Linked DNA regions of Homo sapiens. The protein of the gene in region 5 interacts with the protein of the main gene of each other region in a pairwise test. Each region holds a gene or a part of one and is shown on either strand. Other genes may lie near its edges. The genes, in order: ZNF438, SDCBP2, MAD1L1, CCDC102B, SYT17, CEP63 and MEOX2.

What was found.
Region 1: the proteins of SYT17 (region 5) and ZNF438 interact in binary tests that used the Homo sapiens proteins (3 or more experiments, as listed by UniProt).
Region 2: the proteins of SYT17 (region 5) and SDCBP2 interact in binary tests that used the Homo sapiens proteins (3 or more experiments, as listed by UniProt).
Region 3: the proteins of SYT17 (region 5) and MAD1L1 interact in binary tests that used the Homo sapiens proteins (3 or more experiments, as listed by UniProt).
Region 4: the proteins of SYT17 (region 5) and CCDC102B interact in binary tests that used the Homo sapiens proteins (3 or more experiments, as listed by UniProt).
Region 6: the proteins of SYT17 (region 5) and CEP63 interact in binary tests that used the Homo sapiens proteins (3 or more experiments, as listed by UniProt).
Region 7: the proteins of SYT17 (region 5) and MEOX2 interact in binary tests that used the Homo sapiens proteins (3 or more experiments, as listed by UniProt).

Annotation. Positions count from the first base shown.
Region 1 is NC_000010.11:31,025,095-31,029,378, forward strand, and holds part of ZNF438 (zinc finger protein 438), read right to left. Parts: intron 1-4,284. UniProt on the Homo sapiens protein: Isoform 1 acts as a transcriptional repressor.
Region 2 is NC_000020.11:1,309,136-1,312,650, reverse strand, and holds the end of SDCBP2 (syntenin-2), read left to right. Parts: coding exon 1-64; intron 65-142; coding exon 143-314; intron 315-1,759; coding exon 1,760-1,851; intron 1,852-2,155; coding exon 2,156-2,210; 3' UTR 2,211-2,742; downstream 2,743-3,515.
Region 3 is NC_000007.14:1,820,157-1,824,440, reverse strand, and holds part of MAD1L1 (mitotic spindle assembly checkpoint protein MAD1), read left to right. Parts: intron 1-4,284. UniProt on the Homo sapiens protein: Component of the spindle-assembly checkpoint that prevents the onset of anaphase until all chromosomes are properly aligned at the metaphase plate.
Region 4 is NC_000018.10:68,839,417-68,843,700, reverse strand, and holds part of CCDC102B (coiled-coil domain-containing protein 102B), read right to left. Parts: intron 1-4,284. UniProt on the Homo sapiens protein: During interphase, forms fibers at the proximal ends of centrioles to maintain centrosome cohesion. During mitosis, dissociates from the centrosome following phosphorylation to allow centrosome separation. Contributes to CROCC/rootletin filament formation.
Region 5 is NC_000016.10:19,223,378-19,227,661, forward strand, and holds part of SYT17 (synaptotagmin-17), read left to right. Parts: intron 1-1,305; coding exon 1,306-1,461; intron 1,462-4,284. UniProt on the Homo sapiens protein: Plays a role in dendrite formation by melanocytes.
Region 6 is NC_000003.12:134,561,783-134,565,804, forward strand, and holds the end of CEP63 (centrosomal protein of 63 kDa), read left to right. Parts: 3' UTR 1-3,249; downstream 3,250-4,022. UniProt on the Homo sapiens protein: Required for normal spindle assembly.
Region 7 is NC_000007.14:15,623,835-15,628,118, reverse strand, and holds part of MEOX2 (homeobox protein MOX-2), read left to right. Parts: intron 1-1,200; coding exon 1,201-1,373; intron 1,374-4,284. UniProt on the Homo sapiens protein: Mesodermal transcription factor that plays a key role in somitogenesis and somitogenesis and limb muscle differentiation. Required during limb development for normal appendicular muscle formation and for the normal regulation of myogenic genes.

The DNA.
Region 1 (4,284 bases), on a different chromosome or scaffold from region 5:
ACAACACAATCCTTTGTCCAAGTCAGGCATTTGCCACTTAAAACTACCACCTCCATTTCTAAAGCAAAAAAATAAAAAAATAAAAAAGGAGGAACAGAAGGAAGGAGGGAGTGAAGGAAGAAAAGATATTACAGAATTTCTCAACATCAGGAGTACTGACATTTTGAACTGGATAATTTTCTGTTGTTGAGAAGTTGTCTTGTACATTGTGGGACATTCAGTGACATGCTATAATGGCCTCAATCCACTAGATGCTAGGAGTAATGTCCCCACACACAAATGTGACAACCAAAAATGTTTTCTAGACATTGCCAAATGTCCCCAGAGTGTGTTGGAAAGTAAAAAATCATTCTGAGTTCAGATTCTTCACAGTATCATCTTCCAGTATTTATTTCACACTGCTTGGTGGCTTGCAATGCAGACTGAAATTAATAGCTTTGCAATTGAAGAACCAAATAAGAAAATACTCCCTGTAGAATAGTAACAACTTGAAGAATAATAGCTACGTAGTTATGGTTAAATTATTCCTTTCATCGACATACTGGTTTTGCTTACTATTCCCTAAGAATTTTCTTCTGGGTGTTCTTTTGGGGTTAAAACTTGGTTAACCTGTCACTAAAGCTTAGTCTCCACCTAGACTTACTAATTATTAGCCATTAGTGTAATGTGTTAAAATCAAACCTAAAGATTTTAATTTTTAAGCAACCAAATGTGAAATGAAGCAAAAATAAGTGCTACTTATATAAATTATTTAAATATATTCAAACATTTAGAGTGTAAAGTACACAAACAAGCATCCAGCTACTACTACAAATATATATGAGTTGAAGATAATAATGCAAAAATAAAAGTGATTGCAAGAAGTAGAATTTTGACAAAAACAAGAAATGGGGAAAGGATTCCCTATTTAATAAACGGTGCTGGGAAAACTGGCTAGCCATATTGAGAAAGCTGAAACTGGATTCCTTCCTTACACTTTATACCAAAATTAATTCAAGATGGATTAAAGACTTACATGTTAGACCTAAAACCATAAAAACCCTGGAAGAAAACCTAGGCAATACCATTCAGGACATAGGCATGGGCAAGGACTTCATGTCTAAAACACCAAAAGCAATGGCAACAAAAGCCAAAACTGACAAATGGGATCTAATTAAACTAAAGAGCTTCTGCACAGCAAAAGAAACTACCATAAAGAGTGAACAGGCAACCTACAGAATGGGAGAAAATTTTTGCAATCTACCCATCTGACAAAGGGCTAATATCCACAATCTACAAAGAACTTAAACAAATTTACAAGAAAAAATCAAACAACCCCATCAACAAGTGTGCAAAGGATATGAACAGACACTTCTCAAAAGAAGACATTTATGCAGCCAACAGACACATGAAAAAATGCTCATCATCACTGGCCATCAGAGAAATGCAAATCAAAACCACAATGAGATACCATTTCACACCAGTTAGATTGGCGATCATTAAAAAGTCAGGAAACAACAGGTGCTGGAGAGGATGTGGAGAAATAGGAACACTTTTACATTGTTGGTGGGACTGTAAACTAGTTCAAACACTGTGGAAGACAGTGTGGCGATTCCTCAAGGATCTAGAACTAGAAATACCATTTGGCCCAGCCATCCCATGACTGGGTATATACCCAAAGGACTATAAATCATGCTGCCATAAAGAGACATGCACACGTATGTTTATTGTGGCACTATTCACAATAGCAAAGACTTGGAACCAACCCAAATGTCCATCAATGATAGACTGGATTAAGAAAATGTGGCACATATACACCATGGAATACTATGCAGCCATAAAAAAAGGATGAGTTCATGTCCTTTGTAGAGACATGGATGAAGCTGGAAACCATCATTCTGAGCAAACTTTCACAAGGACAGAAAACCACACACCACATGTTCTCACTCACAGGTGGGAATTGAACAATGAGAACACTTGGACACAGGGTGGGGACCATCACATACCAGTGCCTGTCGTGGGGTCGGGGGAGGGGGAAGGGATAGCATTAGGAGACATACCTAATGTAAATGACGAGTTAATGGGTGCAGCACACCAACATGGGACATGTATACATATGTAACAAACCTGCATGTTGTGCTCATGTACCCTAGAACTTAAAGTATAATTTAAAAAATAAATTTAATTAAAAAAAGAATTATATTTAAATGCTCAGTATGTACTATCACTGGGCTAGACACACTGTTTTCAACAATAAATCTTCATATATATAAAAGTACTCATAAAATAGTTTAAAATTTGCTTGTGCAAATGTAAATTTTAAAAGGAATCTGAATTTTATTTACTATCTAGGATGTTATATTTCGCATGGTCAGTGTTAGAAACAGAGGGTCCTGTTGTTTTCAGATAGAACTTACCATCACTCCCCCTCTGCTGGGAGCTACCTGACACAATTAAATAACCATCAACCTGCCCTCACTGTGCCTGAACTTAAAAGTCAATAACACCTGAGCATCAATAGGCTATTGACTATGCAATTTTACTTTATACCATATATGGGTATCTGATGTTCCTGGGAAACTAACTGCAAATGTGGTGTAAATAAAGACTAATCATTTCAACTCCATTAAATGTAGGGAAGCTACAAGAGCAGATTTAAAACGTTGTGAACTGCAAAATGAGATGGCACCCCTCTACATTTACGTTAGTAGAGGGCTTCTGTTTAGAGTAATCATAGATCTGGTTATTTAGATACTTTCCCAATGAAAGCTTAAAACAAAATATAATTTTATATATTTTTAAAAATTCTGAAATTAACCATAAAATCTACGGCAGTGCAATTTTATATAATTCTTACATGGTTTAAATTTGAAATACTCATGTTAGGAAGTAACAAAATTGTGACAACTGTTGAGGTTATGGTATGCCATGAAAGATCTACGGGAACAAGACACATCTTTTTTTGTTTGTATTTTTCTAGTCTCCATGTTCTACAATGATCCAGCTATACGAGATGTAATCTGCAATTCCACCTACAATATATATCACCAGATCCCCTTTCTATGACAAAAAAAAAATACATGTCAATGTTAGAGATGGTCAGCAAAGAAACTCAAACTTATTCCAATAGGTGGAACTTTGGCATGACACACTTAAACCGGTGGAAACCTGCCTGAATACTTCACCCAACCCCTCCATCACCCTCTATTATGCAAGCTGCAACATTTCAAGCCAACTCCCTTATTTCTCTGGTGAGCCCTGTCAACACTGAGGTAATAGAACTGGAAAAACTCATCACTTCAAAAGGACAGTCAAATATCAGAATTTATTTCATTTGGTAAAAATTCTATCATTGCCAAATAAAGCTAATGCAAATATAGTAAAATATGCATGATTTTGAGTAATTCTTTTGTTGAAAAGGACTCTTGGGGAGCCTCAACTTCATCCTGCAACAGCTTAGGCATTCTTTTGCCCCTTTGCCCTTTTCATGCCCCATCTCACAAGTCATGGAAGCTGGGGAGGGGAGGGTGCAGAAAACCCAAATGAACTAATCGGCATGTATTTATGCATTTAGTCTACTCTAATTTTATTCCCACAGGTTTTTCCTCATACCCTGCTCCTCTAAGGTAAAGAACTGTTTTATTCATCTCTGAACTTCCAAAACCTAACCAAATGCCCATTATATAAAGTCATCCCTAACATCTACTACACAGCAGGCACTGGATTAGGGACTAGAGATAGAGAAGTCAAAGAGACAGACCTTGCCCCTACGGAACCTACAGTGGGGAATACCAGATACTGGCTGCATGAACCCAGTCAGGTCGTAATCAAAGACCAGTTAGCACAGTCCCACTGCCTATAATCTTTCTCCCACAGACAACCAAAGCTTAGATGAAAAACAAAAGCATGCTTTCTCTTCAGAAAAATAAATGGGTATCTCCAACCCTGACCACTCCCCTGAGTTCCATATTCACAGGCATGCATACTCAACATGTTCACTCGGAGGTGGTTACAGGGATTCAATGCATGGACTCCAAAGCCACAATGCTTAGGTTTGAATCCTAGCTACATCACTCACCAGCTGGGTGACTTCAGACAAGTCACTTATAACCTCTTTTTGCCTCTATTTTCTCGTGCTGTAAAATGGGGACAATAATGGTTCCTTGCACATATAATTCTTATGATGATTAAATGAATTAATATAGGTTAAAGTACTTAAAACCCTGCCTGGGACTCAGTTTACGCTTACATAATACTATTTTTACTAGCACTGTTGTTATGACTATGTCTAACAGGCATTTAGAA
Region 2 (3,515 bases), on a different chromosome or scaffold from region 5:
ACAAAGCCCATCAGGTGGTGAAGAAGGCATCAGGCGATAAGATTGTCGTGGTGGTTCGGGACAGGTGAGTAGCCAGGCCCGGGCAGCCTCTCCGTCTCACCCCAGCCATGTCCCCAGGACAGCTCACTGTCCCTCCTGCCAGGCCGTTCCAGCGGACTGTCACCATGCACAAGGACAGCATGGGCCACGTCGGCTTCGTGATCAAGAAGGGGAAGATTGTCTCTCTGGTCAAAGGGAGTTCTGCGGCCCGCAACGGGCTCCTCACCAACCACTACGTGTGTGAGGTGGACGGGCAGAATGTTATCGGGCTGAAGGTAGGCTGGTGGCCGCACCAGGGAGGGACTGCCGGGTGGTGGGAGGGCTCAGGTCTTTGGGCAGCTTGCTTACCCCACCTGAGCCTCAGCATCCTCTTCCTAAGGTTGCTGTGAGGGTTCAGTAAGACGGTGTTCGTAGGGCTGGGTGCGGTGACTCACGTCTGTAATCCCAGTGCTTTGAGAGGCCAAAGCAGGAGGATCACTAAGTCCAGGAGCACGAGACCAGCCTGGGCAATGTGAAACCCTCTTTCCACAAAAAAAACTAAAAAATTAGCCAAGCGTGGTGGTGCACACCTGTAGTCCTAGCTACTCAGGAGGCTGAGGTGGGAGGACTAATTGAGCCTGGGAGGTCAAGGATGCAGTGAGCTATGATCATGCCACTGCACTCCAGCCTGGGCAACAGAGAGAGACCCTGTCTCCAAAAAAAAAAAAAAAAGACAGTGTACCTAGAGCTCTGAGCACAGTGCCAGGCACATAGCAGGTGCTTAATACATAATAGCTATTGCTGGCTGCATGGACACCTCCTTGCTCTGTATGGCACTTTTTTTGGTATAGTGGATCATGTTCAGTAGTTTAGGAATGTTTTAGAAAATCGTTATTCAGAAATCCATGGGGTCGTGAGGTTCTTCAGAACTGGGTTTGTCCCAGCCAGCCACACTTCTTGAGATCGTTTGTCTTTTCAAAGTTTATTTCCACCTGTGGCCATCACTAGTCCTGTCTAGCACATCTTCTCACATTTATTTTCGAACAACCAAGAAAACACATAACCAGATAACATACATGTGTAATGTAAAGGTCAATAGGCTCTGAGTGAGGGCCAGAGGCTCTTCTATGGCCATAACGTTAGTGTTTGGACCACCTGGCACGCTTTGCGTAGAGACTTTTAATTTCTTGTTCTTCCCATGATCTAAGTGGTGTCTGCAGGCCCATCTCTTTTTATCAAACAAGCAAATGTAAGAGGATGTAAGAGGAGGAGGATCCTTATGGCCCTGGAGGCAGCAGGAGCCAGAGGGTGGATGGGTACGCCTAGTACCTCCCACAGGATGGGGAGGCATTTATGCTTTGAGGCCAGAACCCAAATGTGACTGTGGGCTTGGTGAGTCTCTGGGAGCCCTTGGAAGGGGGAGGAGAATCGCATTGATGAGGCCCTGTTACGCGTCAGGCTCACACCGCTGGCCTTCAAGCTGAGGGTGGGAAGAGGCATGCTCATTTGACCAAGGAGATCCTCAGGTGGGAGACCCATGTTCTCACTCAAGCAAGACCTTACCTGGGAGTCTGCTGGGACCCTCATCTGACAGGCTCGGGGTCCGAGGCAGCCCTGCCCTGCAGTCAGCCATCAGTGGTGTCCTCTAGCAGTGGCCATGCTGATCCCTCCACAGAGGGGCCTGTAGAGTTGCCCCTGGTCCCCAATCCTTAGGGTGATCGCTTACTTGCCTCCTCCCTAGGACAAAAAGATCATGGAGATTCTGGCCACGGCTGGGAACGTTGTCACCCTGACCATCATCCCCAGTGTGATCTACGAGCACATGGTCAAAAAGTAAGGCTGCACCCCTCCTCACCCCTCCTCACCCCTCCTCTGCCATCCCCTTCACCTCCCGGCCTCCCAGGTGCACCTGGCTCAGCCACTTCCACTTTCTCAGTGCTGACACAGGGCACAGGCTCAGCCAGCTCTATCCTCCCTTCCCCTCCCTCCAAGGTAGCTTGTGGCTTCTGGTGATTCGAAAGTCTTAGAACTGGGAGTGAAGGCCCACATGGGATGCACTGGCTCGGAAGGGGGTGGAGGTTGCTGGAGGGTGGAGAGAAGGAGCTGCCAACCTGGTCACTGTTGTTGCTGTATCCAGGTTGCCTCCAGTCCTGCTCCACCACACCATGGACCACTCCATCCCAGATGCCTGAAGCCACTGCAGGGCAGGGCAGGCAGGGGGGGCTTCCCGCCCTCCTGCAGCAAAGGGCAACCACCCTCGGATGATGGGTTGCAGCCGGCCTGCTGCTTAAGGTGGGGGCTGCCATGAGGGGGGCGTGTCCAGGAGGGTGACCATGGGATGGCTTATACACACAGGCCTCCTTGGAGCCTCAGACTCCAAGCTAGGCTGAGGCTCAGGCAGGGCCCACAGGCAGCCGATTCTCTTGTGCTGATTTAAATGCTGGACACGGAGGCAGGCTGTTTAAACGCTGCTTAAAGTCGCAACTGGGCCCCTTTCAAGAAATTTTGCTCTACCAGGAAAACAGTTACACATTTTAAGAGAACAGAGCTACGTTCTTTGTGAGAGCTTTTTCCTTGCCTTGACTTGCTCTTTGTCACAGACTGCATAAGTTGTCAGCCTTGACTATCTTTTGAATAAAGATTTGATTTTAAACAAAACCCTGTCCGCAAAGGTAATTGATTCCCCCAAAACTATTGAAAATAAAATAAAAAGGTAACTGAAAATTCTGGAATCCTTGGTCCCCTGACGTGCCAGGGCTGGTTTCCTCTTAAACCGTGGTGAGACCAGGGCCTTTTCTACGCGTGGCCTCTGAGAGCCATGATTTGGCTCTGCCTCTGTCACGTGCCACCTGCCAGCCTGGCGCGGGGATGACTGGAACTGGGGACAGGATGGAACTGTGGGGATGGGGTAGGACTGTGGGGCAGTGGGGCTGACAAAGGGAGCACTGGCTTTGGGGCACCCCCCGTGTGACCGTGGCTGCTTCTGCTTCTGCAAAGTGGGCATGAGAAGCCACTTTAGGGGGTGTTGGGGAAGGTGAGACGCGATGTGCTCATGGCGCCCAGCAGGGTGTGCCATGTGGGGGCAGGGGGAGGTGGCTCCAGACTCTGAGCCTGACCCCAAGAGGGCAGTGGTGCCTCAGCCCCACACAGCTCTCTGCTTCCCTGCACATCAGAGATGATCGCTGCCCACGTGGCTTTTTCCCGTGCGGGTGTTGTGACCCCTGCGCTGGAGGAAGATGGTGTGAACCCTCCCACTGCCTCCCCTTAGAGAAACCACCCAGTATAAAGAAAACAGGCCAAGGGGCTTGCTGTGTTTTCATGCTTTAATTCAGAGTTGTCTGCTGCAGGTACAACTCTGTCTGAACAAAAGGACAAAGGAGACAAGAGTCAAGATCCCTCCCCGCCTCCCCACTTCCCACATCCCCTGAATTCTTCGTGAAGGGGATGGCCTAATATGGGAATGCACTGTGACCTGTTTGCATTGTCCCCCAGGTCAG
Region 3 (4,284 bases), on a different chromosome or scaffold from region 5:
TCTGTGTCTCCCCTGAGCCCGGTGATTTTACGCACCTGACTTCGTTAGTCTTCTCGGCAATGCCCAGCGTGCAGACCAGGCTCAAGAGAGGTGTGTCGGTGTGCCCAGGGTCACGCAGCTTCCTGGTGGCCAAGCCGAGGTTAGAAGCTAGTTCTGGTGGGTGCGAAAGCCCCCGATGTCGGCAGCTCTGCCACCAGGCCCGCACAAGCAGGTGGTGTAAGAGGGGAGGCGTTGGGGCCGGCAGTGCTCAAGTCAGGATTGAGCCGTCTATCTGGAAGGTCTGTTGAGGGTGTGTGCTGGTGGCCGGGAGGTGGTGGCAGGCTGACTACCTGCCATTTTCCTGCAGTGCCTAGGCCCAGGAGAGGGAGCAGCCCCCGGTCAGGACCCAGCTGCAGGACACCCCATCCTCATGGACCTTGCTTCCCGCTCTCCGTCCCCCCACAAATGGGCTCCCAGCATAACTTCCCCCGAGGGCTCCTTTCCTCTCCCCACACAGAGCCCTGCTCCGGAGCGGCGCTTGCAGCACACCAATGACAGGAGGATTGGGCTTCAGGGAAGCAGGCGCCTGGAGCTGTGTCCAGTTAGGTGCGTGGCGCTTGCAGATCCAAGCATGAAATATTCATGCCTCCCCCGGCCCAGCAGCTGCGGCTTCTCATCTGGAACAAGGGGGTGCTTCTCCCAGGAAGGCCAGTGGGAGCAGGGGTGTGTCTGAGAATGCCTGGGCGCTCTGCCCTCACGATGGCCGCTGATGCCACAGGCCCGGCCTCTGTGCCCAGGCCACTCTCCAGCCTGGTGAGGTCTGTTCTGGGAAAAGAGAGAAGCAAGACAGATGTGGGCCTTGCCCTGTGGGGCCAGGGCACAGGCAGGAATCCCACTTGGGGTTAAGACGCTGCAGTCACCCCTCCAGGTGCCAGGGTCCCCTGTGGCCGTGGCGTTCTAGGAGAGATGGGCAGGGAGACGCTGGCGCCCTGTCGTGTAGCTTATCCTTGTATCTGCTTCACAGGCTCTTCCACTGTGCAATTTCCTAAAATTTTGGCGAGGCCCATTTATCCATTTTAATTTTATTCTGTGGATTGTGCTTTGGTGTTGAGTGTCAGAGCTCTGCCTCATCCAGATCCTGAAGATTTCTTTTTTAACATAATTCTGTGTTTTACATGTAAGTTCGTGATACAGTTTGAGTTAAATTTTATTTGAGATGTGAGGTTTCGGTCAAAAAAATTTTTTTTTAACTAAGTGTGTCCAGCTCCTCCGGCTCCAGCTGTAGCAAAGACAAGGCTGCCCTTCCTCCACTGAAGCGCCTTTGTGACTTTTCTGTGACTTTTCCGTATCGATTAATAGGGTCATATGTTGTTTATTCTTTAGCCTGTTGATATAGCAGATTACATTGATTGATTTTCAAATACCAAGCTAGCCTCGTACACCTAAACGAAGTCCCACTTGGTCACGGCATAATATTCTCTGTTAGAAAGTGGCCTGGACGCGTCTGTGGGTCTCTTTCGAGTTCCTCTGTTCTGTTCTGCTGGTCTCCACATCTCCCCTCCAGCGCTGCCCCAGCCATGTCTGTCTGACGTAGGAGCCGTATAACGCTGTGCTGTAGCTGTACGGTTCTCAACATCAGGAAGGGCAATTCCTCTACTCTTCTTTTTTGGAATTGCTTTCTATATACATTTTAGAATAATCTTGTGTCTCTCTACCAAAAAAAAAAAAAAAAAATGCTGGCCGGGCATGGTGGCTCACGCCTGTAATCCCAACACTTGGGGAAGCCAAGGCAAAAGGATCGCTTGAGCCCAGGAGTTGGGAGACCAGCCTGGGCAACACAGGGAGACCCCATCTCTATGAAAAAAATACAGCCATGAGTGGTGGTGCGCACCTGTAGTTACAGCTACTTGGCACGTTGAGGCAGGAAGATTGCCTGAGGCTGCAGTGAGCCAAGACCACACCACTGCACTCCAGCCTGGGTGACAGAATAAGACCCTCTTTCCAAAAAAAAAAAAAAAATATATATATATATGCTGAGGTTTGGACAGCAATTACCTTAAAACCAAAGATCAATTTTGGAAAAATTGATTTACTATAAGTCTTCCAGTTCATAAACATTGTATCTATTTATACAAACATTCTTTTTATTCCTTTCGATTCCTTTCATCAGTATTTCCTAACTTTCTGCAAACAGACACTATACAAGTTTTTGTTAGATGTATACCCGAGTATTTAAGATGTTCTGTAAATTATATTGCCTTTTAATTTTGTTTTTCACTTGTTTGCAATTGCTTTATAGAAATGTGGTTAATTTTTGTATGTTCATCTTATTTCCTGCAACCTTCGTGGACTCACTTAGTGTTCCAGGAGTTTTCTGCAGATTGCTCAGGATTTTCCACGTGGGCCGTCACGTCATTCTAGGAGTTTTCTGCAGATTGCTTAGGGTTTTCCACGTGTGCCGTCATGTGATTTCCGAGTAGGGACAGTTCTGTTCTTTTCCAATCCCTATGCTGCTGCTTTCCTTTTCTTACCTGCATGCCCTGGCGTGAGGAGCTCCCATGCTGGGTTGAGGATGAGTGGGGAAAGCCAGCTCTCCGCTGACCGAATGAGGGAAGGCGGCCAGACTCTTCCGTGAAGCAGCGTGAGCTGAGGGTTCTTCGTGGTGCTTTTTACCAAGTCGGAGGACTTTCCCTTGATTCCTGCTTTGCAAGAGTTCTTGTCAGGAATGGAGATTAAATTTTTTCAAATGCTTTGCCTGTGCCAATAGGATCATATCATTGTCTTCCTTTAGCCTGTTGATAGGGTGGATAACATTGATTGATTTTCAAATTTGAACTAGCCGTCGTTGTACACCTAAACTGAATCCCACTTGGTCAGGGTGTGATACTCTTTTTCGTGTGTTGCTGGATTCCATTTGTTAGTCCTTGTTGAGTATTTTTGCAGCTAAGCTCATGAGAGACTGATACTTATTTTTCTTTGTGTGCGCACCATCCTTGTTGGTTTCAGTACAGGGTTCATAGTGGAAAGGTGTTTCTCTGTCTTTTGTTAACTGAAAAAGGATTGTGTAAAATTGGTATTAATTCATATTTAATGTTCGGTAAAACTTTCTAGTGAAACCATCTGGGACTGGAGATTTTGAGTAGCATTTTAATTAGAACAAACTTGATTTATTTAATGGTTATAGGACTACCGAGGCTATTTTATCTTGGCACGTTTTGGTAGTATGTGGTTTTCGAGGAATCCATCCAGTTTGTTATGAGCATCAAGTTTTGTTGTAGTATTTTTTATTGTTATTTTAATAGCTTCTGGATCTATTATAATATTTCCATTTCATTTCTGATATTGGTCATTTCACTCTCCCCCCCCCCTTTTTTTTTTTTTGAGATGGAGTCTCGCTGTGTTGCTCAGGCTGGAGTGCAGTGGCACGATCTCGGCTCACTGCAAGCTCCGCCTCCTGGGTTCATGCCATTCTCCTGCCTCAGCCTCCCAAGGAGCTGGGACTACAGGCACCCGCCACCACACCCGGCTAATTTTTTGTATTTTTAGTAGAGATGGGGTTTCACTGTGTTAGCCAGGATGGTCTTGATCTCCTGACCTCGTGATCCGCCCACCTCGGCCTCCCAAAGTGCTGGGATTACAGGCGTTCCCCCTTTTTAATCTTTGTCAGTTTTGCCAGGGGTTTATCAATTTATCGTTGCTGGTCTTTCTAACAAATTTTTGAGACAGGGTTTCACTCTGTTGCCCAGGCTGGAGTGCAGTGGTGTGATCATAGCTCACTACAGCCTCAAACTCCTAGGCCCACGTGATCCCACATACCTGGGGCTACAGGTGTATGCCACCACACCTGGCTGATTGATTATAGGGATGGGGTCTCACTGTGTTGTCCAGGCTGGTCTCAAACTCCAGGGCTCAAGTGATCCTCTCACCTTGGCCTCCCAAAGTGCAAAGATTACAGGTGTGAGCCCTGCTCCTGGCCGGCCTTATTGCTATTTTTTAAAGAAGCAGTTTTTGGTTTTAATAACTTTTGTTTTCCTGTTCATTCCTACTTGTATTATTTCCTCCTCCTGCTTCGGGCTTGTTTTTCCCTTCGTTTCTTGAAGTAGGAATTTAGAGAAGCGATTTGAGATCTTTCTCCTTTCCTGATACAGGCATTGAGTGCTGTCCGTTTCCCTCTAAGCACTGCCTTGGGTGCGTCTGGCAAATTTCATTATGCTGTATTCTTGTTTCCATTCTGTTCTCTTTTTTATTTCCTTCGAGGCATCCCATTTGACTCGTGGATTACTTAGAAGTGTGCTGTTTAATTTC
Region 4 (4,284 bases), on a different chromosome or scaffold from region 5:
ACATTCTTCATGAGAACGAAATTAAAAAGACAAAGCTCAGCAAAAATGTCGTATCTTTAATATGATGATATAAAGTTTAAAAAATAATATTGCTAAAGTATATAAAATTTGTAGAATCTAAAATAGAAAATGTGAACCAAAATTATTTTTATGAAAAGATGTGATTTTATTTCTATGCATTTTTTGATACTTTGTTTACTGTCACAATTCCACAATAATTGGAAATAAAATTTAAATTTCTAGACAAGAATATTACTCAAATATTTCTCATAGATGAAAGGTCCTAAAAATTAATATCTAGGAATAAATATTAATCATTGTTGAACTGTGTGAAATTTCACTGGAAAAAAATTGAATCATGATTTTCTGAAAAGGTGTATTAATATAAAAATGTTCTTACCAAATCAAATGATTATCTTGTAATAACATGCAGTTATTCATTTTTATAACAGTTCAAAATTTAGAGATAGTATTAAACTGTTAACAATACAAGTTTTTACAAATATACTTTAAGCAACATACATGTCATTTTGCAACTGCACTTCCTACTATTCATAATTACATCTTTCAGCACTGGGTGTTAGCACTCGGCTGTTGCAAACAGCCAAGCCATATACAGTTAATTTAATTAGAAAAGATAAGTGTTTAAAGAATATTGTTAAGCTCAGATCTCCAGGAGAATTATAGAACAAGGCTTGCAGATGAAGCGGACAGGGACCAAGACCAACTCTCATGCCACAAAACTGGTCCCATGAAGACCCCACTGCCTGTAACCTCCTCTGTCTGTTGCCTCTACACTCTCCTGGTAATATGTGTCTGGCAAGCAAACGTATTCAAATTAGCAAATTTGAGCGGAAATTGACATTATAGCTCAAAATATTTCTGGGGAATACATGCAGCCAGGAACACTGATGAGAAAGCCATCAAAATCTTCCTGTAAGCACACTATTTCGGCCACCATTAAGGTAGAGACATCACAGCGGGACCTCAAGATCACCAATACGGGACAGTGAGTGGTGTCACTAAGCACCAGAGGCCACCGCTGCCTCTGGAAACAAGTTGTCTTTATTGCTGCTGCTTCTCGCTTAGGTATGGATTCTAGATGCTGTCTATTGCCTTGCGGTATTGGCTTGGCTTAAAAGTCTAGGTGGCCACCTCTGATGCACTATTCCTAAGTCAAGTGTCTGTACCCTCATTGCAAAGGAAACCCTGGTAGAGACTTACTGGCATTTTTATAATCTATGCACAGGTGTAGACTCTGTTTCATTTGGCAGTGAATTGCCAAAACACAAAATAGACACTGGAGAGTCAAAAAATGGTAAAGGTTTATTGAATATTCCATGAGTGACAGTTAATAAAGTAACAAAATAAGCTTGATTTTCAAATATTTACAAATATTACATTAAATAGTATTAACCAGATTTGCATGTCAATGTATTCATTGAGGAATATATATATATATACTTTATATATATAATTTCTTAAATATGTAAAGTAGAAATCTGTGTCTTTCATACATATATAAAAAATAATATCCTTTGTAGCATTTTTAATTTGCTGAAGCTTCTAACCTGGATTTTAAATCTCATTAAGAAAAAAATTGAACATTTAATGAAGCATGCTACTTTTCTTACATAGAAAATAAATTAAGAAGACAAAATGGGCTGGGCGCAGTGGCTCACGCCTGTAATCCTAGCACTTTGGGAAGCCAAGGCGGTTAGATCACTTGAGGCCAGGAGTTTGAGACCAGCCTGGGCAATATGGCAAAACCCCGTCTCTACTAAAAATAAAAAAATAAAAAATTAGCCAGGCGTGGTGGCACAGCCTGTAATTCCAGCTACTTGGGAGGCTGAGGTGGGAGGATGGCTTGAGCCCAGGAGGCTGAGATTGCAGTGAGCTTACATTGCACCACTGCACTTCAGCCTGGGCAACAGAGCGAGACTGTCTCAAAAAGTAAAGAAAAGAAAAAAAAGATAAAATGATAAAATGGAAAGGGAGGACTGAAGCTCAGCTTAAAGGACACAGAACAAACATTTTACAAGTGATAAAGGAGGTCTCTGCAGTGAAATTTGAAAACTGATTCTGAAGTTTGGGACAGTTCAAATTATTTTATCTCAGTCTCTGTTACTTGAGATTTGGTATTGCCAAACCTCAGCTTCCCAAATGTTTAGGTACACATAGGCCTATAAGAGGATCAGCTTTCCTGGCCTTACTCCAAATTTTCTACCTGGGAAGTCTTTATGAAAGTCAACAGAAATATATAAATTCTCAGTATATGAGAAACTTTTATACACTGGATAATTATTCATAAAACTGAACAGTACTCAGAGTGCAAAGAAAACTATAAAGTTTCATCTATTTGATGAGGAGGTTCTAGTCAAGGACAATGGAAAAAAATGAGTCCCTGAGTTTTCTGAGTTGATTTCTGTGCACTAGTCAAGAAGAGAATTTTCCCACTAGATGGGAATGCAGAAAAAAATACATTCACATCTCAGTCGAAGCCACCCACTCACTGATATTCCAGGAAGAAGAATTTAAAAGATTAGATGGATTTATAAGTAATAGCATATCCTATATTCTTGGAAAATGTTCTCTTGTGATAGAAAAAAAGACTGATTGCCTCATGCGGATTGCATGCAAATGTTGATTCATGGACACAGGAACCATGACTCATCACGTCCGTGGGATTGTTTCTTAAAAGAGGAGAGTAGGAAGACAAAGCCATGGAAAGCTTCCTTTTTTCTCTTATTCTTTGGCCTGTCTATGGATTATAGACTGAAGTCACTGAGAACTGCAGAATGTACTTACTCTGAGAATTGTTCATTTATTCCAAGAAAGTAAAAAGTATATGTTGTGTATATGTATATGGATAAGCGTGTTAAGACAGAACATGCATATCTTTAAAACTGACACCTTAGAATAGAAGTTTACATCTAGAAAAACACAGCTCTGCATTGCTCCTATTAGACTGCACTGGGGAAGTAATATTGTATGTGGGCTGGAGAGAAGTCTATAATTACCAAAAAGTTAAATGCTTCAAGAAGTAAAACCACGGAGATTAGAATGTGACTGAAATGTATAGGGCTAGATAAAATTGTCACTATGTGTACGAGCCTAAAAATTAAATTCATTTTTATTCTGTTTTCTACTAATGTTGGTTGCCTCTATTAGGAATTTACACTTGGTAGAGTAATAAATATTTATTCTGTACATAGATACTTGTATGATCACAATCTACTAATCTAGTGAAATACAGATGAAGAATCTGAAAAAGGGAATTGGTGGCACTAGTAAATTTCAGAGGGACTAATGAGAAACTTCTGGCAGAAAGTAAGTGGTAAAGAACTTACTGTATTTGTGAATGGCTAGCATGCATATTTATCCCTATTTCAGTCCATTCAAGCCAGGAAAATTAAAACTGTTATATAATATATACTTATATAATACATTGTGTGTATATATGCATACATATCCTTCTTGCTTTTCTGGTTCTGCCTATTAAGATTTTTATAACTAAGAGATAAAAAATAATTATTTTTAGATTTTGGAACCTTATTTATATATTAGATATTCCACATTGTGCTAATAAAATTGTAAGCTGATTGCATAGAAACGAAAATCCATATTGAACATTTCATATTACTATTCTCTTTCCCAGATGTTATTTGTTCTTGATCTTTATGAGAATTCACTGAGAAAGGCTATGACAGACTGTATTTTGCAAAGATCGTTGCCACAATGACTGCATCCCACACACCCTTATTATAAAATTGTTTTCACACTCCTTCCATTGAAAGTGCCTCTCTCTCTTTAATCTGAGTCAGACTTTGAGATTCTCACCACCGATAAGTGGGTCTGACTTTTGAGGCAGAATCATTCAAATGGCGTTTTCTTCTCTCTGTGTTCTTAAGATGTTCACTTGCAACCTAGCCCCAATGTTGTGAGGAAGCCAAGCACCCCCTTAAATAGCCCCAGTGCAGGTGTCCCAACTGAGGCATAGATGAAAACCGAGATGGACTGCCAGATATGAGTGAAAGAGGCTGCAGCCCCCAGCCTTCCATGCATTGCCAGCCTTTGAGCCCTTGCAACTGAAGGCACAAGTGAGAGATACAATGTCCATGCCAAGCCATGCTCGCGATTCTTGAACAGAAGACAGGGTGGTTGCTGTTGATATGTTTTAATGATAATTACTTGGAAAAGTTTGTTTCAAGATAATAGATAACTGGAACATAACAGCACTACAGCTATTTTCACAAAGGGGCAACAGCCAACATCACATAGCTA
Region 5 (4,284 bases):
AAGGAAGTGACTTGGCCTTTCCAAATGCTATTCCTGCAATGTAGACGCCATCCTGCAGGTGGCGATAGTGTGCATTGACTATCCATTCTAATCAATGAGCGTGGAGGACACACCCTAAGGTTTTTCGCCAGCTCATTTCATGTGTGCCATAAATTTTTATGAATTCCAACTCTGAAAAGACTTGTATTTAAAGTGTGTATATTATAGCAAAAACCATTCAAACATGACTTTTAATGGAACGGAACAGATTCCATTCCATCTGCATGTTGCTTCTTCCATGACAGCAAAGGATATTACTGTGAAAGCAGCTGTAGTCAGGGATCTGTTCAGCTCAGTGGTGGAATTATTGTCTTCTCTAAGTGCGGTAGCTAAAATAAATTACTTTTGCAATAAGGTGACAGCTAGAAGACACCTTGCATTCTCAAAAGCCACATTATAAAAACAGAGGCTTAGAAAGGGCCAGTGGAGGCAATGGTATTAAGACTGAAGAGTTTCAGACTCACCACGATGGGAGAGTCAGTATGATAAAATCATTAAGGGTTTAGGAGTCAAATGATGTGGCTTACAAATGATGTGGCTTTAGGGAAGTTACTTAACCACTATGTGCCTCAATTTCTCAATCTCAAAAACTGACATAATAACAGTATTCATCTTGATAAGTTGTTTAAACAAATATTAAATTAGATAATGTACATGAATCCCTTTGTAAACTGTAAAATGATCTAAAAATGAATTATAATTCTGCCATCTCTATTCACCTGTATATGGGCTATGGGCTCACTGAAATGATAATGGGTTTCCACAGACAGAAATCCAGGGCAGGCTCTGAGTCTGGTTCTGTGTCCACCAGCAAGATCTTTAAAAACTGATTTCTCACCTTGAGTCCTCAGTTTTCTTATCTGTAAAATGAACACAATGCTGACATATGGGAGGAGCTCAACAAATATTAGATGGCTAAAGGAAGAAGGAAGGGGATAAGCAGATGAATGGGAAAATGGATGGATAATAGATGGATGGATGGTTGAACTGTCAAATAGATGAGAAATTGGATGGATAGAAAATGGATAGATAAAAGTATGGTGAGATGATGAATGGATCAGTGAACTGACGGATGGAAAGATGGATGGATGGATAAACAGGTGGATGAATGGACGGACTATGAGATGAATGAAAAGTTGAATGGGTGGATGGATAGAAGAATGGAGGAATAAAAAGACAGATGGATGGGAGGTTGAATGGCAGAATGACTGGACGGATTAGGTTTCATGATCTCCAACATTCTATGATGCTGTGTCTAATTTTCAGACCCCTTTGTGAAAATCCAGCTGGTGCATGGACTCAAACTTGTGAAAACCAAGAAGACGTCCTTCTTAAGGGGCACAATTGATCCTTTCTACAATGAATCCTTCAGCTTCAAAGTTCCCCAAGAAGAACTGGAAAATGCCAGCCTAGTGTTTACAGGTAGGTAGCATTCCAAAACCCGATGAACTCCAGGTGAGGCACGTCAAACTTACTGTCCTAGAGCCAGAAGGCATCTAGAGAGAGTTACATTTAAGAACGTAATGTCTGGCATTCAACTACCTGGGTTTGAACCCACTTAACATCTATGAACTGGGGCAGGACTCATAGAGCCCTATAATATAATTGTTAGAAATGTGGACTTGAGCCAAATTTCCTCAGACTGCCACATAATAACTGAGGTCTTTGGCAAGTTACTTAACTCCTCTGAGCTTCAGTTTCCTCATCTACAAAATGTGAACAATAATAGTACGTGTGGCATAGGTTTGTTGTGAACAGTAAATGACTTACGACTTTGCAATATACTTGGTACATAATAAGTACTCACTATGTGTTAGTTTTGATGATGATGGTGGTGATGATTCAAGTTCCCTGCAGTCAAATAGAGAGGCATATGAAAAAACAGTGTCACCTAACTCAGAAAAAGGGATTTTTAAAGTCTTCCCAGAGGATGTAGTATTTAAGTAGAGGCTTCATGTGACACTGTCTGGTAGAATTTAGTCCATTTTTCCAGGGTGTAATCTAATGTAGTATTTCCAGGGTATATTAGTTATTTATTGCAGCATAATAAATCACCCCAAAATTTAGTAGCTTGAAACAACAAACATTTATATCTCATAGTCCCTGTGGGTCAGAAATTCAGGTATACAAAGCTTTGCTGTATAGTTCTGTGTGAATACCTCTGACAAGGCTGCAATCAAGGTATTGGCTGAGGCTGCAGCCTCATCTGAAGGCTCAACTGGGGGAGGATCTCTTTTCAAGCTCACTCACAGTTTTCAGCATGATTTAGTTCCCTGCAGGCTGTTGAACTGGGGACCTCAGTTCCTTCCTGGTTGTTGGCCAGTGACCTTCCTCAATTCCTTGCCACATGGGCTTTACCATAGAACAACTCACAACATGACTTTCATCAGAGTGGTCAAGTGAGGGAGCAAGAATGGCAAGGAAGAGTCTTTTTGTAATCTAATACTGGAAATGACATCCTATTACTTTCATTATATTCTATTCACTAGAAGCAATTCACTAGGTCCAGCCCACACTCAAGAGGAAGGGATTACACAAGGGTAGGAAGAGTGGGAGGTGGGAACCACTGGGACTCATCTTAGAAGCTACTCACCACAACAGGGATAGAGTTAGTAGGAGTAATGGTTATTCTTTCTTGTGTTCTAATTACAGTATGTACTTCCCTATATCATTGCTAACATTCACCATAACCCACCCTGTCAAGTTGATATCTTCATCCTCAACTTACAGATCTAGGGACTGAGGCTTAAAACCTAAACAACCTACACAAAGTCTCAAGCTGATAGAATCAGGACTCAAGCTCTGGTCTTGCCAGCTCCACATATCAAGGGATCTATATTTCCTCAAACACCCAGGTAGGGCTAGAACTGGGGATCGACATCATCCTTTGAGACATCCTTCTCCAGGGTAACTGGAAACTCTCCTCTGGTTAGATCTTGTCTAGAACCCTGGGCTCCAGGTCTCCCAAGAAATCAATCCATGGCTGAAAAACCCTTGCATACAAGATTTCCCCTATATAAACTTATTGCTCCTTCTCACCAAGATTGCAAATGTCTATCCTCTGAGACCCCTTCGAAGCAGGTTGGTTCTGGGTTTTCTCAAGGCCTGTCACCCATAGAGTCTGCGTTGAATCAGGGGATGCCTGCCATATGCAGATATAATGATCCCTTCTAATGCAGTCTGTGATGGCTGCTGTCCGGATGGAGTTACAAATAGACAAGGGCCTCACTCTCTCCTAGGTTTCAGGCCAAGACAGAAGACCGTCACCCCTGACTCCTTAAATGGTGGACAGGCAGGTAGTGGGGCCTATTGTATATTAAACCAAGACACAGATAAAAAATGAAGTCTCTTTTCCCAAGTCCCTGCTGAGAATAAGGGACCTCCTATTGTAAGCTTAGATGAGGAGAGGACCCCAGGGGAAACTGAGAGCCCCCATGGAAAGCCCTGACACTTCATATTTTACTTAACATTTTATGATAAATGTAGCACACACGTGTTATAATGAGTGACACCATGAAAAGATGTGTAAGGACAGAGAATCAGAGGAGAACAGGGGTTATGTGCCTGTGCTGGGGAGCTGATGTCTGGGTCCTGGCTTTACCACTCACCTACTTTGGTGACCCTGGGCAAGATCTGCGTGCTTAGGTTTTCTCAGCTGTAAAATGGGGATAACAATACAGGACACTTCACAGGATTGTTATTTGCATTCAGTGAGATCAATAAACACACGGTGCTGAGCACTGTGCCACCCATAGTAAGCACTCTAGAACTGTTAACTGTTATTAAAGGGAAAGTTTAGTGTTTTCCTTTTTTCTCCCACACACATGGGGCAGCCACCACCTTCTCACTCCCTCATGCAGTTTTGTTTATTTCAGAGTGTTTTCTTGCTGTGTAATCCTTCTCCCCGCTTTTTTTTTTTTGAGACAATCTCATTCTGATGCCCAGCTGGAGTGCCATGGCATGATCTCGGCTCACTGCAAGCTCTACCTCCCAGGCTCAAGCAATTCTCGTGCCTCAGCCTCCTCAGTACTTGGGATTATAGGTGCACGCCACCATGCCTGGATAATTTTTTGTATTTTTTGTAGAGACGGGGTTTTACCATGTTGGCCAGGCCAGTCTCAAACTCCTGACCTCAAGCAATCTGCCCACCTCGGCCTCCCAAAGTGCTGGGATTACAGGCATGAGCCACCACGCCTGGCCTAATGTCTTCCTTTAATGCCTTCCCCTTTCCAGTTCCTTCTCCCT
Region 6 (4,022 bases), on a different chromosome or scaffold from region 5:
AATATTTATTATCATAAAGTGATACTTACCTTGCTGACTTAAATGTGAATAGCTATGTACTAATTGAAATAAGGATTTTATGATACATGTTGAAAATAAAGTAACTGCAGGAACTTTCTTTAGGGGAAATGTGTAGAAGCATGGATTTAGGGGTCAAACATACCTGGATCGATAGACTGGTTTTGCCACTTACCAGCCAACGGGGCTTGTTATTTACTGGGCTGGTAGCCCCTCCTAGCCAAGGGGCTGGTAGTGTGTAAAGTCAGGCTGGTAGTGAATAAGGGGGGGGTGTGCTAAAGAACCTTATCAAGCAGTCCTCTCTTGCTCAACACTCATGCAGAGGAGAGAGGCAGGGAGGGCAAGGGACTGGCTGTCATGCACGGTGCCCATGGAATATCCATTGGAAATAAATGTTCATCGTCTGCACTGCTGAGGACAAGTTTAGATGGGAGACAAAGATCTGGATGTTGATGTGCCGCAGGCATTTGAAACGATGGGAGTTGATAAGATCCACCAGGGAGGCTGTGGAGAGAGAGAGGAGCAGGAGGCTGGGTTTGGGGCCCTGAAAGATGCCAGCATCTGAGGATCACAGGAAATAGATCTAGCAAAGGAACTAGAATGTGCAGTTACAGATGAGAAAGGTCAGTGTAGTGTACTTGCCAGCTCAAGGGTGTGGCCTCTGTGAACCCTCTTTCTGTAGTGGATCTTTCCCATCAGCGTAAAACATCCTGTTATTTCCCCTTTTTAAATAAAACCTCAGTTTTTTTTAATGCCTCTCTTTTACTGCTCTGTATGTTTGCTTCCCTTCACCCAAACACTTCTGGAAAGAGTTGTCTGCAGTGACTCTTTCCAGTTCCTCACCCCGCCCCACCGTAGTTCTCTTCCTAACCCTCTCCAACACCACTTCCATCCCCAGACTGCTTTCTTGCTCTTGAGTTCACCAGTGACCTAATCAGTGTCTGAGCATCATTCAGCACAGTTGGACTCTCTCTTGGCTTCTGTGACCTGGAACTTCTGGTTTCCTCTCTACCTCATCCTCCACTCCATCTCATGGCTTTTCCTCTTCTAACCTCTAAGTCAGAGGGCCCCCTAGAGCTCTGTCATGGGTTTTCTCCCTCAGCATTCTCTTCCCTAGAAGTTTCCATTCCATTCTCAAGCTCTTAATACCACCTATAGGCCAGTGACCCTTACATTTATTACTAATCTTGACCTCTCCCCAGAGCTGCTGTCTTAGATACCTAGCTGCTTATGCGATGTCTTCACTTGGATATCTGACAAACATCTTGTTTCCAAGAGAGAACTCTTTATTCTCCCTCTTGCTAAGATTCCATATCAGGACATAGCATTATGTTTGCCAGTTCCTAGGAGTTACTTATAATTCCTTCCTTACCCACATCCGCATATCCAGTCATTTGGGAGGTCCTGTCATTTCTTCCCCCAGAATCTTATCTCAGACCCAACCGTTTCCCTCCTGCACTTCTACCACCTGATCCAGACTACTTCTCTCTCACCCTGATTCTGGCAGTAGCCTCCTAACTGATAGTACTCACACCAGTAATTCAGGGAGCTTCTGGAGTTATCCTTTAGAAATGTAAATGAAACAGTGTCACCACTGCTTCCCTTCAGACTCTTCCAAGGCTTCTCTTTTTTTTTTTATTGAGACAGAGTCTCACTCTGTCGCCCAAGCTGCAGTACAGTGGCAGGATCTCGGCTCTCTGCAACCTCCACCTCCCGGGCTCAAGTGATTCTCCTGCCTTAGCTTCCCGAGTAGCTGGGATTACAGGCGCATGCCACCAGGCCCAGCTAATTTTTGTATTTTTAGTAGGAACAGGGTTTCACCATGTTGGTCAGGCTGATCTCGAACTCCTGACCTCAAGTGATCCACCCGCCTGAGCTTCCCAAAGTGCTGGGTTATAAGCGTGAGCCACTGCACCCAGCCCCAAGGCTTCTTACTGCACTCAGAATAAAATCCAAATGAATTAGTATAGCCTACAGAGTGTCAATAATCTGGGCCTAATCACCCATTGCATCATCCTTTACTGTGCTCCACCCATGCTGGCGTCCTTTCTGTTTATTGAGTGCAGCAAGCTTTAACCTGTTCGGGTCTTTCATTTGCAGTTTACCCTGAATATTCCCTTTCTCTTACCTCACCTTTGATTGGCGTTTTCCCCCTTGCAGACCTGCACTCTGGCATCCTCTCCTGAGCAAGCCTTCTTTGATTGCTGCCTCCCAAACCTGTTTCTCCCCATTTCTCTAGCTCATTGGCCTGTGTTACTTGCTTCATAGTGCTCACTACTATCTGAAATCATTTCATTACTTGATTTATGTTTGTACTGTCTATTTCTGTCTTTAGAATTAAAACTCCTTGAGGGCAAGGACTTTGCTTCTCTGGTTCATGGTGGGATCCTCATCACCCAGCACAAGCCCAACACTTAGGAGAGGCTCAGCTAGTTTGAACCAATGGAAAATGCCATTCCTGAGGTGCACCACATCGTTTCTTTTGTGTTGGTGTGCATGCTGTCCTTCAGTTTGTCTCCTCTTCCCACACCCTGTCATGTGCTCCTAAAACTCCCCCTTTACTTGGCTACTTTATCTGGCTTGGCAAAGCTTTCCCATATCCCCTGACCCATGTCAGGGAACGTTTCTCCTCATTGCTGTCATGGCACCCTGTGTGTGGCTCTGACCAGACTTTGCTATCCGCTTTGATTTCTGTCTTTCAGGGGCTAAGTCCTGCCTACATCCTCAGTCAGCATGCTGCCTAACACATAACAGATCCTAAGCAAATATTGGGTGGATGAAAATCACTACCATTCAAGGCTTCATTGTATTTATCAGTAAAACTGAAATAATATCTAATGGGGTCGAGAAGATTTACTGAAAATATATATTTGAAAGGGCTTTGCAGTTTTAAGTACTGTACCTATGTGCATTGCTGTTACATTCAGGAGATTTCTGAGTTTTAGACAGTCCCAAGCTTCAGCTTAAAATCTGTAGACTGCAGCCCGTTTCTGAAACGTTTGTACTACGTGTTGACTAGGAGGAACAATGACAGACTCTGTAGTCACCGGAAATACTTAAGGAATCATGAGGTACTATGTATTTCCTTAAATTATACTGTTTTTTAAAGCTGAAGTATCTAATAGTTAATGGGTTGTCCAAATTTGTCAGAACATTTGACTGTAATTTAATGTCTCACCATTTTTCAAAAAGATATATTAATACCAAATATTAAAATGTGTCAAGACTAAATCTGAGTTAGTGTCTTAACACACATTTTCCAAAATCTGTCCGTGATCAGGGTACCCAAATGAGATGAAAAGATTAGGGATTTGTAGTCTACATCTGGTGTTTACAGATAATGTTTTATTGGGCAAGTCATCTCATTCTTCTTGTCCTGGATTCCCATGAATTTTCATCTGGATTCCTACGCAGATTTTAGCTGAAGAGGGCAAAGTTGACTTCCCACTGTGGGCTGGACATTACCTTCCCTTGCAGACTCATTTGATCTCAACAAGTGTAGAAAAAATACTACAACACTCTGTTTCTGTGACATCTGCTTAAACCCAAACAATTCTTACCTTCTCTCTCTTACATACACATAACACCTGGTAAACTGTGGGTGATGATTTTCTGTTTGCAAAACACTCGAGTCCAGTACCTAAAAGTTGCAGATAAGAAAGATAATTATAAAATAAGCTCTATGGCATGAGAACATACGTTAAGCAAACAGTTGTCATGAACAGCACTGAAATGTAGAAAAAGTTAGAAATGTGTCAGCTTGTCCCAAAACAGTTTGAAATAGTATAAATGCATCAAAAAGTAACAAACAGAATCGGGGCAGAGGGAAAATGAGGGCTGTAAACATTGATTCACTAATGAATCTAGTTGTCCAGTCCAGTTGCTAGAGGAAGGCAGCCAAGTTACCTCTGAGCTTCAGAGGGGGAAAAGCAGAGGAGAAAACATTTACCTAAAAGTTTTATGGTGCCCATAAGATAAAAAAAAAAAAAAATCATAGACTTAAG
Region 7 (4,284 bases), on a different chromosome or scaffold from region 5:
TATTATATTTGTCAATTAAAAAAACAATTAAAATGTCACTCTTTGAAACCTTTGGTTAATGATCATCTTTCTACATCAATTTTCTATCATTTGGGTTCCTAGAAGAGTTAAGTGTATTCACACTTTTTAAAGATATCACAGCTTGTTTGTACATGTGCAAAAATAATTAGATACCAGAAATAATTTTCAGGAGAGCATTAATGTGCCCTTTTTTCTTGATTATGTTGATATTTCACTGAGGATAAATTTGCCCTAAGTTATTAGAGCTGGGTATGATTACTTTTTACTTGACGTGTGTGTGTGTGTGTGTTTACTATTGATTCACGTTCTGCTTTTTAGTATATTAAGAATGTCTTCTGACCTACATTTCAGGGGTATTTATGAGGATAAAAGAAATTCTATACGTTAGTTATGTATTGAACCCTTAAGAGGAAAAATGGAATGATATACTCAAAATTGCTATTGGTATTTTACACTGCATTATAAGATTTGATGTTGTGGATCACTGATGTTACATGTTGTGCACCTTATGTTTATCTTATATATAATGAAAAACACATTTAAAAACTCTGTTCATAGTTTAAGTCATATGAACACAATTTCATTTATAGATTCCATGTTGGACTAAGTATAATATAAAATAAAAGAACATTGCTATTGCCCTCAAGAATTTTACTTAAATACAGATAAAAAAGCCAATAAGTACACACATACTTTTACATACGCTCAGTCTGAGCATAAAATTTTTTATGGTCCAGTTGCTAAACGTTTGAATTTCTCAAATACTCCTATATTGAGATGCCACTTTTTAAAGGATTACTATGTTCAATCTTACTTAGACCTCAAGTACGTATGTTCAACAACTTATGAAACAGAACTTCATATCTAAAAGTGTTTTCTAGAGAGGTTTTGGTTTATCTTAATATCATACTACAAGCAGTTAAAGGTTTTGTTAATATTTTATAAGAAGAAAATTACATGCTTTCCCAAATGGACTGTGAGTTACCTGAAGGAAGATGAAAAAAATAAGAATTATATCTCCCCCCGTTGAGCTGCCGTCAGTCTTGCTGTCTTTGGTCTCTATTTGTTCCATGTCTAGCGCAGTACCTGGAAAAGTAGTAATTCAATAACTGTGAATAATATGATTGCATGTGTTTGAATAAATGAGTTATTACCAATTCTGTCTCCCTTTTTTTTCAGACTCCCAGGAAGGAAATTACAAGTCAGAAGTCAACAGCAAACCCAGGAAAGAAAGGACAGCATTTACCAAAGAGCAAATCAGAGAACTTGAAGCAGAATTTGCCCATCATAATTATCTCACCAGACTGAGGCGATACGAGATAGCAGTGAATCTGGATCTCACTGAAAGACAGGTAAAGCTGGGCATTATCATTATATGATCTTTTTTAATTGCCCTGGGTCCACAGTCTTCTTTGCCATATTTGAAATACCTAGATCCAGAATTCTTGAATACCATTTGGAAGACAGTTATACTATTCCATGATAAAATTTTGCCAGCAAAATAACAAAATTAAAAATAATATAGTGATATTTGAAAGAAAACCATACTTATTGAGTTGAAGAAAGAATCCTCCTATGATTATTATCCTTCTGTATTTTTGGGTTTTAAAATATTATTTCTTTTACATAATGATGGCATACAGTGAGGAGTTGTGCATGCTTATATGTTAAAATCTCCTTATTTGGCATATTAGAAAGTTGGTAAACCCAGATTAGTTTTCTGTATTGCTCAGGATAGGTCATGATAAGTTGCAGTAACACATTCACCCTCAAATCTCAATGGCATAACATAAAAATGTTCATTACTTACTCACTCTCCATACAAACTCTACATGTCCAGCATTCCAGATAATCACTCACAGACCCATTCTGACTCTTTAGCATCTCAACATGTGGTGTCCATGGTAACTACAAGAAATAAGAAAGAATTGGAAGTTTATGCACTGACCTTTAAATGTTTTCACCTGGAAATTAGCCATGTCACTTCTATTTACACACTAATGTCTAGAATAGTCAAATGGTGCGGCTTAGGTGCAAGATGGCTGGGAAATGATGAAAGGCAAGGACACATAGATCATTGGTAAATATTTCTGCCCCTTTACCCAAAATATTTTTGAAATTGTATCGGTGTCAGTAATTCAAAATTCTGCTACCCACTCAGAGAATACTTTGAAATTATTAATGTTTTTGGACTCCAATTAATGAGACCTAAATAATATTTTTAAATTAATTGCTTTTTAGGTCCCTTTCTTGCATTTTTTTTGAATGACAAATGATTTGTTCTAACAGTGTTCCCAGTGAATTCCTTGTACAGATTCTTGTTTCCCTGAGGAGAATCTAGCCTACTGCCGGTTAACAGTTGCTAATCTTTACAAAAACATTCCTGAAAGGCAAATGCAAACATCTTTATGGACAGTGCAGTTATGATTGGCACTCTTAGGGCTAGAGTCTCATTTCCTCTTTCACTGTGTGTACCTCCTCCAGGATCCCATTGGAACCAAAGAAATATCAACAGGGTGTGGACAAATGAATGCATGTCTTAAGAGAGCAAGTTATTTTATCCAATTTCTTAAATGACCTGCTTTCCTTCTGTTAATTTTTACATTTCAGCTTTGGTAGGTTATTTATGGGTAGTAGAAATATACAGAGGAACACTTTTCTGTGGTTTTATTTATTGGCAGTTTGTATTTTATTACATATTATGACTAGTACCTATGTTATGGAGCACAGCATTTTCCTTCCCTTAGACTTCACATACAAAATTCCCTCTATGGGTTCAACATTTGGCATGCTGGAAAGCAGGATCCAAAGTCTACATCATCAGACCTCTATTTTATTATTTTTTTTAAACAGGGAACGGAAAATAAAAAGGTGTATGTGGAGGGAGAATTACACACTAATGTTCTTATATAGAGATGGTGAATTCTAGGAAATGCAACCGTGTTTTATATAGTAGATGAAGGAACTAGGAAACTAGGATTTGCTTCCAATCTGTAGAAATGACAGGATCCAGTACTGTGCTCTCAGCCAAGAGGAAAAACAAGATTCTGTACTTGACATTTTGGGGGTGGTCTACGGTTATCTGTCATTGTTTGACCACGGAGCAGAATCATTTATCTTTAGAAGCAGTTTTGTAAATCTGGTTTGAAAACGTTGAAGGTGTCTTGGATATTTCTTCTTTCTAACTGACTTCAGGAGCTTGGTAAAGAATTACATGCAAGAATTATATATACCTATACATACTATTTTAATGTTGTTTTAAAGATTCTTTTAACATTTTGTGTTAGTTACCCTTTGCTGTGTAACAAACCACTCCAAATCTTAATGGCTTCAAATAATAACCAAAGTTTTATTTGCTTTAGGTTTTGTAGGTTAGAGATTTTGACTGGGCTTAGTTGGACAGTAATACTGCTGGCCCTACATGGAACCCTCATGGAGCTCCAGTCAGCTGGTGGGCTGACTAAGAAAGAGATGGTTGGGCCTCAGCTGTGGTTTCATCTTCTTATAGGCTAGCTTGGGATCCTTCCAATGGTGATAGAAGCATTCCCAGGAGCACTGAGGGGGAAAACTCCGGTGAGCAAGGGCTTTTCAGGCCTCTTACGTCATATTTGCTAGTGTCCCATTGTCCAAAGCAAGCCATGTGACCAAACTCAGTGTCAGTGTAGGACAAGATCGCTTCATTGGAAGTCATTCCTGAAATAATCTAACCACAGCATCACAGGGGGGAAATTAACACAGAACATGAGAGATAGTTCAGTTTTCATTGAATTGAAAATTTGTTATTGTGCACAATATATTTTTATTCCATAAATCTCTACGTGCAGTTTTGCAAGTTAATGTGAAAAGATGTATACATGCAGAATTTAAATTCCTAATCAAAACTAAGGCTTTAGAGGGCCTCCCTGGGTTAGTCAAAAAGAATTTAATTGTTATGAAAAAAATCTGAATAAAAATCCAAGGTTTGCTGATTAGAATTGTGTGTTCTTAAGTAAGTAACAATCTCCCCAAGGCATAAAATGGAAATTAAAACCTGCTCTTTCTTCTATGTAGATTTGTATATCATAATGGGTATGAAATAATTTTTAGTGTAAACTATAAAACAGAATTATCACCCAGGTGGGAAAAACCTTTGCTATGCAAAGCATGTTGAATTAATCATTTTGTAACACAAATATTTGTTGAGCTAAGTGCTGGAAGTAAAATCTTAAGCTAAAGAAATACCTGTTAGAATTCATAGAAGAGGTAAAAATTGAACAAATATTC